2 separate regions of the Homo sapiens genome follow, and region 2 is linked to region 1. Evidence: fine-mapped expression QTL. A gene starts in region 1. The other region holds a variant in brackets. All regions are shown on one strand. Distances are from middle to middle.

Region 1 (5,332 bases):
ACGTGTAGCGTTTCTGCCCATCCACACTAGGCAAGGAGAACTTATGTCTATAATCCACTGATTGTTCCTTGAGGAGAAAGAGGATGAGGGAAAGTGGGTGTCTATGAGAGAAGGGAGAATTAAAACATACTCCTGAACACCCACCAGTGTCATCTCTGCTACTGCCCAGTTTCTCTCTCATCTCTTGACTACTCAAGCCACACTGCTCCCTTCACTGACTTGAATCTAATGCCTCCCCTCTGGATCCCCTTAATGGCTTCCTTTTGTTTACTTGTCTATCTGGTATCAGGAAGAGTATGGGTAGGGAATCCCTAATGAAAACTCACTGGTGTCAGGAATGGTGGCTCACGCCTGTAATCCCAGCACTTTGGGAGGCCGAGGTGGGCAGATCACCTGAGGTCAGGAGTTCAAGACCAGCCTGACCAACATGGCAAAACCCTGTCTTTACTAAAAATACAAAAATTAGCCAGGCATGGTTGTGCATGCTCCCAGCTACTTGGGAGGCTGAAGCAGGAGAATCACTTGAACCAGGGAGACAGAGGTCGCAGTGAGCCCAAGATCGCCCCACTGCACTCAAGCCTGGGCAACAGAGTGAGGCTCTGTCTCAAAAAAAAAAAAAAAAGAAAGAAAGAAAGAAAAGAAAAGAAAAAAAGAAAACTCACTGGAGAAAATAGGGGGGAAAGGAGTTGGAGGAGGGAGGGTAGGGGGTGAGCAGAGAAGCTGGGAGGCAGAGAACAGGAGCTTGATATTAGGTCCTTCTATCTGTCTGGTTGAATCCTTTAGCCCTACTTTCTTGGCCTTAGCTGCTACATTCACGTCCCTAGTCACTCACAGTCCAGCTGTGGTCCCAGTCAGTCCGGTACTGCACCAAGTGCTCCAAACAGTGGTTCAAGAATCTGTTGTTCCAGTTCAGTTCTAGCTGGGATTCACTCAGTTTGTGAAGTGTTAGGTTCTCTGGAGCCCAGGGGATCACTGGAGATATGTGTGCATATGTGGTCATTCCCCTGGCCTAGACAAGTCAGGATCCTGAAGGTAGTGCCCCTAATACCTCCTCCCTTCCCATCATGATCCCCTACCTCCTCTTTTCTGCCCATGTACCCTTATGATAAAAGAACACTACTCTGTAGACTCCAATGTCCCACAGTATCCCTGGTCTCTTGACCCTTTCTTTCCAAATTACCCAGATTCTGCAGTTTTAGCATCTGTGTGGCCTGTCTCCTGGGTTCCCGTGGGTCCTGGAGCTGAACAACAAATGTTTGGTAGAGGTGGATCTCCTTTTTTTGCAACTGACAGCCAGAAGTGATTTCTTCAGAGAATAGATAGTGGCTGCACTTCTGGACTTTATCATTATCCGAGTTCTTGTACCTAGAGGAGAAAGGTTGGAAGGAAGAGGAACAGTGGGGCCAATCTGGGTACTGCAGATATCCAGAGCCTAGCCTCATCTCCCCTCAACCGACTTATGACTTACCCCAGGAGAAAACAGTGGGGTACCTGGGAGACTTGCTACCCTCTCTCTTGGTCTCTGATCCAACCCACCTCTTCTTCATCCCCTCCCCCTCGTCCCTTCTCATACCAATAATGCAGAGTGAGGTTGGTAGGCTGGGGCTCAGAGCTGCTGTTCCAAGTGCAATTCATGTACTCGACATTGAACACAAAACACTGAACCTCTGGGAGGGGCAGAGTGGAAACACTGAGGGAGTCAGTGGGCATAGTGGTCAGGAAGAAATCTAGATTGGGGAGAAAATGAAGGCAGGGAGGGAAAGAGAAATGATGGTCAGAAGGAGGAGGCCAAGCACGGTGGCTCATGTCTGTAATCCTGGTGCTTTGAAAGGCTGAGGCAGGAGGATCACTAGAGGCCAGGAGTTTGAGACCAGCCTAGGCAACATAGTGAGACCCTGCCTCAAAAGAAAGAAAGAAACAAACAAACAAGAAAGAAAGAAGAAGTAGCGTGAGGCAGGGAACCCTCCCCCTTGCCCTTCCCACTCCACTTTTCAATTCTGCCCACATGATTGTAATGGCCAGTGGCAGGCACCAGATCTCTGTACGGCCCCTTCCCACAGCCACCCTTCTCACCAGCCCCCTCCAGTCCCAGATTTCCCACCAGCTGTGGTGTCTTCATTCCCATTGGGCGTCAGAATTGTCGTGTTCAGCCCCACTCCCAGCAGGGGCAGCTGCAGGAATAAGAGGGATGTGAATGGTAATGATGGCTTCAACATGGCGCTTGCTCTTCATTCCCTGGGTGTAGTCTGTCTGTGTCAGGAACCTGGGTCCCTCACCCACTACCCCTCCCCACCCACACGTTTCCTCTGTCATAGCTTCCGGTGGAAAGAACCTTATAAACCAGGGCTTTACAGAGGGTGTGGCAAATATGTGCTGTGTGACACGGGCTAAGTCCTCTAGGAGATTAGGTGCTGCTGTAAGGTGGTAAACAGAAACTAAAGCTGGATATACAATAGTGTCACAGACTCAAAAATCCTCAGCCCACCTAGATCCTGGGAAGGATCTGTTCACTACCACTAGCACCATTCTCAACCACCTTCTCCTCTAAATCATTACCTTCTATAATGGAAGTTCTGAACCCCCACCCCCGACATCACCGTTCTATGCCATGCCTCTTCCTTGACTTGGTCACCCTTAAATCTCTGTCAAAGCTCTACTGTTTTGGGAGGATGGAAAATACCGTCTTGGCTCCTGTGGGCACATATACAGCTGTCTTTCCTCTGATCTAATCCAAACCAGAATACCCACCCTTAGCTGCTGCCTGAGCTGGGTCCCTGTTGAGACTGGCGAGGAAGTGTGACTTATAATACAAAAATATTCTAGAAATGGAGGAACAACAATACTAGCTTCAAGCTTCCCATCTTCCCCCAACTCTGCTTCTCTTCCTGCCTTCCCCACCTCAGTCAATGGTATCGTCACCCTCTCAGTCACCCAGACTTGAAACCTCAGAATCAGCTTCAATTTCTCCCCCTCTCTCACCCAGAGAATATAACCCACTCTGCTTCTGTGGTGTTTCTCCCAACGGTTTCCTCCTTTCCATTACCACAGCCACTCTGCTAAATCAGTCTTTCATTAGCTCTAGTCATGATTCTATCTAGACTCCATCAACTGGCCTCCCTTTCTAAAGGCCCTCTGCTCTCTAATCCATTCTTCATCCTGTTGCCAGTTTTACCTTCCCCGAAAACACAGAGGTGATTGGAGAAGCCACTTACAGAAACTATTTATTCAGCAAACATTTATTACGTTTTTAATATGTGCCAGGCACTGTGCTTATGTTCTGGAAATAGACCAACAAGACATCCTCATATTTCTAGACACTCACAGAAAAGTGGGGAAGACATAAACAAGTAATACAACATAGTGTAACAAGTCCTATAGCATAAATGTAGAGATACTACAAAGTATGTGAGCACAGAAGAGGAAGTAACTAAATTTACCAAGATGGAGAGGGGGATAGTTTAGTGAAGGCTGTGCTGAAGAGGTGCTATTTCAGTGGCATCTTAAAGAATGAGTGTAATTTTACCAGACAGAAAGTGGTGTAGGATATTAAGCAAAGAAAAACAGCACTTGCCTGGGAGTCTCAGGAAAACTGGACTATATGGCCCAGCTTAGTATTTAGTATGTATCTTTAGTATGTATTAGTTTGCTAGGGCTGCCATAAGTTATCCCCAAACTGAGTGGCTTAAACCAACAGAAATTTATTCTCTCGGCTGGGTGCAGTGACTCACGCCTGCAATCCCAGCACTTTGGGAGGCCAAGGCAGGTGGATTGCTTGAGGAGTTCGAGACCAGCCTGGCCAACCTGGTGAAACCCCGTCTCTACTAAAAATACAAAAATTAGCCAGACATGGTGGCAACACCTGTAATCCCAGCTACTCGGGAGGCTGAAACATGAGAATCGCTTGAATCTAGGAGGCAGAGGTTGCAGTGAGCCAAAATTGCGCCACTGCACTCTAGCCTGTGCAACAGAGTGAGACTCCATCTCAAATAAATAAATAAATAAATAAATAAAAATTTTTTAAAAAGGAAAAAAAGGCATTTATTTTCTCACAGTTCTGGAGCCCAGAAGTCCGAAATCAGTGTGGCCAGGGTTGGTCCCTTCTGGAGGCGCTGAGGAAGAAGTTGTTCCATGCCTCTCTTCTAGCTTCTGGTGGCTGCCGTCGATCCTTGGTGCTCCTTGGCTTGTAGACACATCATTCCAATCTCTGCCTCCATCTTTGCATTACCTCTTCTTCTTCTCTGCATCTCCTTTATCCTTCTCTTCTCTTACAGGGACACCTGTCATTGGATTTATGGCCCACCCTAATCCAGGGTGTTCTCTCCTAGGAGCTTTGCCTTAATTACAGCTGCTAAAAGCCTTTTGTCAAAGAAGGTGACATCCACAGGTTCCAAGTGAACATATCTTTTTGGAGGCCACATTCAACCCACTACAGAGGGCATTCTCCAATTTAAAAGTCTTCAAAAGCTACTCATGGCCTTCAGAATAAAGCCCAAGCTCCAATGATCAATTCCAGCCACACTGGATATGTCATACGCATTTCCTTTCTCTGGAATTAGCCTCTTCCTAACTTTCTGTAGGCTAAAATCCTTCAGAAGGCAAAACCCCATCTCTACAAAAATACAAAAATTAGCCACGTTTGGTAGCACTCACCTGTAGTCCCAGCTACTCAGGTGGCTGAGGCACAAGAATCACTTGAACCCAGGAGGCAGAGGTTGCAGTGAACTGAGATCGCACACTGCACTCCAGCCAGAGTGACAGAGCAAGACTCTGCCTAAAAAATAAAATAAATAAAATAAATAAATCCTTCAGGGCTACATGCCTATTAGAATAGCCAAAATGGGCTGGGCAAGGTGGCTCACACCTTGCCTGAAATCCCAGCACTTTGGGAGGCTGAGGCGAGTGGGTTGCTTGAGCCCAGGAGTTGGAGACCAGCCTGGGCAACACAGCAAGATCCCATCTCTTGTTTAAAAAAAAAAAAAAAAAAAAAAGAGGCCGGGCATGGTGGCTCATGCCTGTAATCCCAGCACTTTGGAAGGCCAAGGTGAGTGGATCATTTGAGGTCAGGAGTTCAAGACCAGCCTGGCCTACATGGTGAAACCCCGTCTCTACTAAAAAATACAAAAATTAGCCAGGCAATAGTGGCGCATTCCTGTAATCCCAGCTACTTGAGAGGCTAAGGCAGGAGAACTGCTTGAGCCTGGGAGGCGGAGGTTGCAGTGAGCTGAGATTGCACCACTGCACTCCAGTCTGGGTGACAGAGTGAGACCCTGTCTCAAAAAAAAAAAAAAAAATTGCCCAAATCCGGAACACGGACTACACCAAATGCTGGCAA
Region 2 (5,362 bases), 110 kb after region 1:
GCGGCTGGTCAAGTGCGACGTCTACCCCTGCCCCAACACAGTGGACTGCTTCGTGTCCCGCCCCACCGAGAAAACCGTCTTCACCGTCTTCATGCTAGCTGCCTCTGGCATCTGCATCATCCTCAATGTGGCCGAGGTGGTGTACCTCATCATCCGGGCCTGTGCCCGCCGAGCCCAGCGCCGCTCCAATCCACCTTCCCGCAAGGGCTCGGGCTTCGGCCACCGCCTCTCACCTGAATACAAGCAGAATGAGATCAACAAGCTGCTGAGTGAGCAGGATGGCTCCCTGAAAGACATACTGCGCCGCAGCCCTGGCACCGGGGCTGGGCTGGCTGAAAAGAGCGACCGCTGCTCGGCCTGCTGATGCCACATACCAGGCAACCTCCCATCCCACCCCCGACCCTGCCCTGGGCGAGCCCCTCCTTCTCCCCTGCCGGTGCACAGGCCTCTGCCTGCTGGGGATTACTCGATCAAAACCTTCCTTCCCTGGCTACTTCCCTTCCTCCCGGGGCCTTCCTTTTGAGGAGCTGGAGGGGTGGGGAGCTAGAGGCCACCTATGCCAGTGCTCAAGGTTACTGGGAGTGTGGGCTGCCCTTGTTGCCTGCACCCTTCCCTCTTCCCTCTCCCTCTCTCTGGGACCACTGGGTACAAGAGATGGGATGCTCCGACAGCGTCTCCAATTATGAAACTAATCTTAACCCTGTGCTGTCAGATACCCTGTTTCTGGAGTCACATCAGTGAGGAGGGATGTGGGTAAGAGGAGCAGAGGGCAGGGGTGCTGTGGACATGTGGGTGGAGAAGGGAGGGTGGCCAGCACTAGTAAAGGAGGAATAGTGCTTGCTGGCCACAAGGAAAAGGAGGAGGTGTCTGGGGTGAGGGAGTTAGGGAGAGAGAAGCAGGCAGATAAGTTGGAGCAGGGGTTGGTCAAGGCCACCTCTGCCTCTAGTCCCCAAGGCCTCTCTCTGCCTGAAATGTTACACATTAAACAGGATTTTACAGTAAATGAAGAGGTGGCTTGTGTGTTTGTCAAGTTCTTTCTCCTGCAACCTCTGACCTCCCCCAGGATGAGCTGGCCTTGGTTTTTTACTGATTAAGAAAGGAACAGGGCAAAAGAAGTAGTTACTTGAGTAGCTGAAGCTGCAAATGAGGAAATCACTGTACTTCTGGGCCGCAGAGCCAGCCCCGGAGCCATTCCTCCCTGTTGCTTTTGTTGTTGTGGTTCTTGTCTTTTTCATTGTCTAATAACAGCTTTATTGGGATTTAGTTTACATACCTCCTTCCTCTGATTTTGAAAAGATTAAAAATGACAACTCCCTCTGAAGAGACAAGAAATGATTGGGAAATTTCTCCTGCCCCAGAGAGTGGCACAATTCCCTGGGTACCTCGGTGAGAGCCCCTCCCCCGCACATCTGGAGACCTATCTCCTTACTCCCTCCAAACTCAGCATCCCCTACAAGCTGATGTCCCACAGTCCACCTGTTGGGTTGCACGATGACCCTGACCCCTTTCAGCTGGACAGAGCCCCTAATTTCATCCTCTTTCCCAGTTTCCTTCTCTCAGGAATCAATGCTTCCCACTCCAGAGATGCCTCCACACAGGTCAAACATTTCATAGCAGCAGTTTCCTCACCAGCATCACCCTCCCCTGTCAGCTGTGGTAGGAAATGCCCCAGGCTGAGACTTGGAAAAGCTGCGCTGGAGTCCTGATGCTGTCACTTAGTAGCGGGGCATTCCCTTCCCCGAACCTCAGCTTCCTTATGAGCAAACGAGAACTGGCCCAGCACATCTCTCAGCTCCCTTCAACACTCTGTGCTTCTGGGATTCCTGAAAGATTTCCCCAAGTAACAGTGCATTATCTTCCCCCAGCCTCACAGGGGTTTCCTTAGAGTCACTGCCCCCACAAATAGCCTCTCAGAGTAAAAGTTTCCCCCATGGCAAGTTTGCCTCCTCAGCTTCCTTACCTCCGAACAGGAGAAATTATTTGCCACTCCCTCTCAGAGTATGTGGACTCCATGTAGGAAGTGCTGGATATCAGAAAGGGAGAGAAAATCAGAC[ACAATCT/A]CATGTGAATTGTTCTCCCTTGAGACAGTTTTTCCTCTTTGGAGAGAAAGCATGGAAGTTTTCTTTATTTGAGATTTCTCCTTTAGAAAAAAAAAAAAGGAAGACTGGATGTGGTGGCTCATGCCTGTAGTCCCAGCACTTTGGAAGGCCAAGGGGAGAGAATCACTTGAGCCCATGAGTTTGAGACCAGTCTGAGCAACATAGAGAGACCCCATCTCTACAAAAAAAATAAAATAAAACAATTAGTCAGGTGTGGTGGCATGTGCCTGTAGTCCCAAGCTATTTCGGATGCTGAGGTGGGAGGATAACTCGAGCCCAGGAGGAGGTTGAGGCTGCAGTCAGCTGTGATCACGCCACTGCACTCCAGCCCGGGCCAGAGAGTGAGACCTTGTCAAGAAAGAAACAAAGAAAGAAAAGGAAGGAAGGAAGGAAGGGAGGGAGGGAGAGAGGGAGGGAGGGAGGGAAGGAAATGAGACCTTTAGAGGCCGAAGCAAGAGGATTGCATGAGGCCAGGAGTTCAAGACTAGCCTGGACAGCATAGCAAGATCCTATCTCTATTTTTTTTTTTTTTGAGACGGAGTCTCGCTCTGTCACCCAGGCTGGAGTACAGTGGCGCGATCTCGGCTCACTGCAAGCTCCACCTCCCGGGTTCACGCTGTTCTCCTGCCTCAGCCTCCCGAGTAGCTGGGACAATAGGCGCCCGCCACCACGCCCGGCTAATTTTTTTTTGTATTTTTAGTAGAGACGGGGTTTCACTGTGTTAGCCAGGATGGTCTCAATCTCCTGACCTCGTGATCTGCCCGCCTCGGCCTCCCAAAGAGCTGGGATTACAGGTGTGAGCAACCGCGCCCGGCCTCCCATCTCTATTTTTAAAAAATTGAAAGAAAGAAAGGAGAGAGTAAGTATTCCTTTCCACCACACTTAGTAATCCCTGAGAGAGAGCTTCCTCTCCCTTAAAAGAGGAACATTCCTTTCCTACAAGAAATTTCCTTTCCCCTTAGAAACTGACATTATGTTCCATCAGAGGAGAGGTCCCCACCCCCTCACGGTGAGAGAGATTCCTTTTCTTATCGAAATCCATCCTTTTCACCCACAACAATACAACAAACACATCCCCTCTCCATACAACATGCCATCAGGAGAAAGATTTTCTTTTTAAAATTCCATCCTGGTCCTGGTCGGAAGCAGGGAACCTCATGCCCTCTCCACATTGAGAAATGCTAACCCCCACCATCACATCAGAAATGTAGTTTCTCTTCAAAGATTCTACCAATCCCCCTTGGAAAGAGGCTCCAACTCTATATCAAGGCTTTCCTCTCCAGGGGGCAGTGGTGGGACAATAAAGCTATCAGGCTGGGTGTTACAGCCCAAGTGGGGGACACAGGATTCTTGGGTCCCATGAACCAGGTAGGAACAGGCCCAAGGAACCTTGAGGGGAGCTGGTGGACACAATGTCTCAGGGAGGTAGGAGGCAGAGTTAGACTGACTCCAAGACTGACTTTTCAAATCAGGCTCTGTCACAAGAGTATAAGAGAGAGACACAGAGGCAAATGAGGCATGCTCTCTGCCACGCAGTAGAAATTCAATGTGCTGAGTGACCTGGGTTATGAAGAGGACACTGGAATTAGGAGACCTCGTTCTCCACTGATGAGCTCTGTCCCCTTGGACACGTGATATTTACCCTCTCCAGGTCTGTTTCCTCATCTCCAATAGAGAGTTAATAATAACCTCTCTACCTCTTTCACAGAACTTTTTTGAGAATCAGACAAGATGTGTTCAAAAGCTGGTTATGAACTAACGGTAAAGTAAGGTAAGATAGTATCATAAGCACTGAGACCATGGCCTTACGACATGCTAGAATTCTCAATGAGCCAGAAAGGAGTGAGGCTGGTTCAGGTAGGCTGAAGCTAGTTAAAACAATTTGGCAATAATAGTGTTGGCTCCCCCAGGGAGTGGACACCAGTCCAAACAGCAAAGTCCAAGAGAGGTTGCAAACCTGAGCATGATTCATTTAAGGGTCAATATTCAAGGGGTCTGATCAGGGGGCAGAAAAGGCATAGTAACAGGAAGCTCTTGCATGCTGTATCTCATGGAACTGGTCCTTTTAGGAATGTCTATGATCTTTTAGAGGTGTCTATGCACAGAGATGCCAGGAGCTGGGGGGCAAAGGAACAGAGGCAGATGAACTAGGAGAGTAATCAAGGCCTCCAGCCAGCTGAGTTGGGGTTTGAAAGCAAGCTGTGGTATCCATAGAGAATTGGCATGGCAACCACAAACTGGTTCAGATGTTCAATCAGATAGCCTGGGTGCACACAGTGGGGGCTAGAGGGGAATGCTTGCTCCATTTACTGATTCCAAAGTACTTAAATGCCAGACCTGGCCTATGGTGCAGAAGGGGCTACACAATCGTACCAAGCTAAGCTCCTGTTGATTCCTGGAGTAGGCCAGGGAGAATGTACAGGGTCAAATGGAAAATGGATTGGGACATTCCAGCAAGGGGCAAATAAAACAGACAAAAAATACCCTACAGATATGACAGGAATTGGCTGGGCACAGTGGCTGTTGCCTGTAATCCCAGCAATTTGGGAAGCCAAAGCAGGCAGATCACTTGAAGCCAGGAGTTCGAGACCATCCTGGCCAACATGGTGAAACACTGTCTCTACTAAAAATACAAAAATTAGCCAGGCGTGGTGGCACATGCCCATAGTCCCAGCTACTCAGGAGGCTGAGGTGGGAGAATTGCTTGAATCCGGGAGGTGGAGGTTGCAGTGAGCCGAGATCGCGCCACTGCACTCCAGCCTGAGTGACAGAGTGAGTGAGACTCCATCACAAAAAAAAAAAAAAAAAAAAAAAAAAGCCAGGCACGGTGGCTCACGCCTGTAATCCCAGCACTTTGGGAGGCCGAGGCAGGTGGATCACTTGAGGTCAGGAGTTTGAGACCAGCCTGGCCAACATGGTGAAACCCCGTCTCTACCAAAAATACAAAAATTAGCCCCGTGTGGTGGCGCACGCCTGTAATCTCAGCTACTTGGGAGGCTGAGGCATAAGAATCGCTTGAACCTGGGAGGCAGAGGTTGCAATGAGCCGAGATCATGCCACTGCACTCCAGCCTGGGTGACAGAGCGACTCTGTCTCAAAAAAAAAAAAAAGGTATGACGGGGGTGATACCTTCAAACTTGTGTGTTTGGAAGGTCAGCCAGCAGCTGCATGGAGACTGGATTGGGGATTGAAGACTGAGACAGATTGACCAGGTACTGCCAGGTGCAGTGGCACACCTGTGGTCCCACCTACTTGGGAGGCTG

Direction of the effects. Positions count from the first base shown, and alleles are read on the strand shown. Sizes are in standard deviations (SD) of each study's normalised expression.
For the expression in coronary artery of the gene that starts at base 2,254 in region 1, A is the low allele of the variant in region 2 and ACAATCT is the other (moderate effect, 0.52 SD a copy in GTEx).

The links. PIP is the estimated chance that this variant, and not a neighbour inherited with it, causes the effect.
Region 2: its variant is fine-mapped to the expression of IL2RG in coronary artery (GTEx, PIP above 0.99).

The regions. Positions count from the first base shown.
Region 1 is chrX:71,109,324-71,114,655 of GRCh38, forward strand. IL2RG (interleukin 2 receptor subunit gamma) reads right to left here and starts at 2,254. Exons shown (of 8, transcript NM_000206.3): 1 at 2,102-2,254; 2 at 1,574-1,727; 3 at 1,181-1,365; 4 at 833-972; 5 at 1-67. The coding sequence starts at 2,216. RefSeq lists enhancers at 1,715-2,914, 2,017-2,406.
Region 2 is chrX:71,224,196-71,229,557 of GRCh38, forward strand. GJB1 (gap junction protein beta 1) reads left to right here. Exons shown (of 2, transcript NM_000166.6): 2 at 1-1,321. The coding sequence ends at 364. Among named protein-coding and RNA genes, the nearest start is that of GJB1, 3.7 kb to the left of the region's middle. The variant ACAATCT/A (reference allele first, on the strand shown) is at 2,055.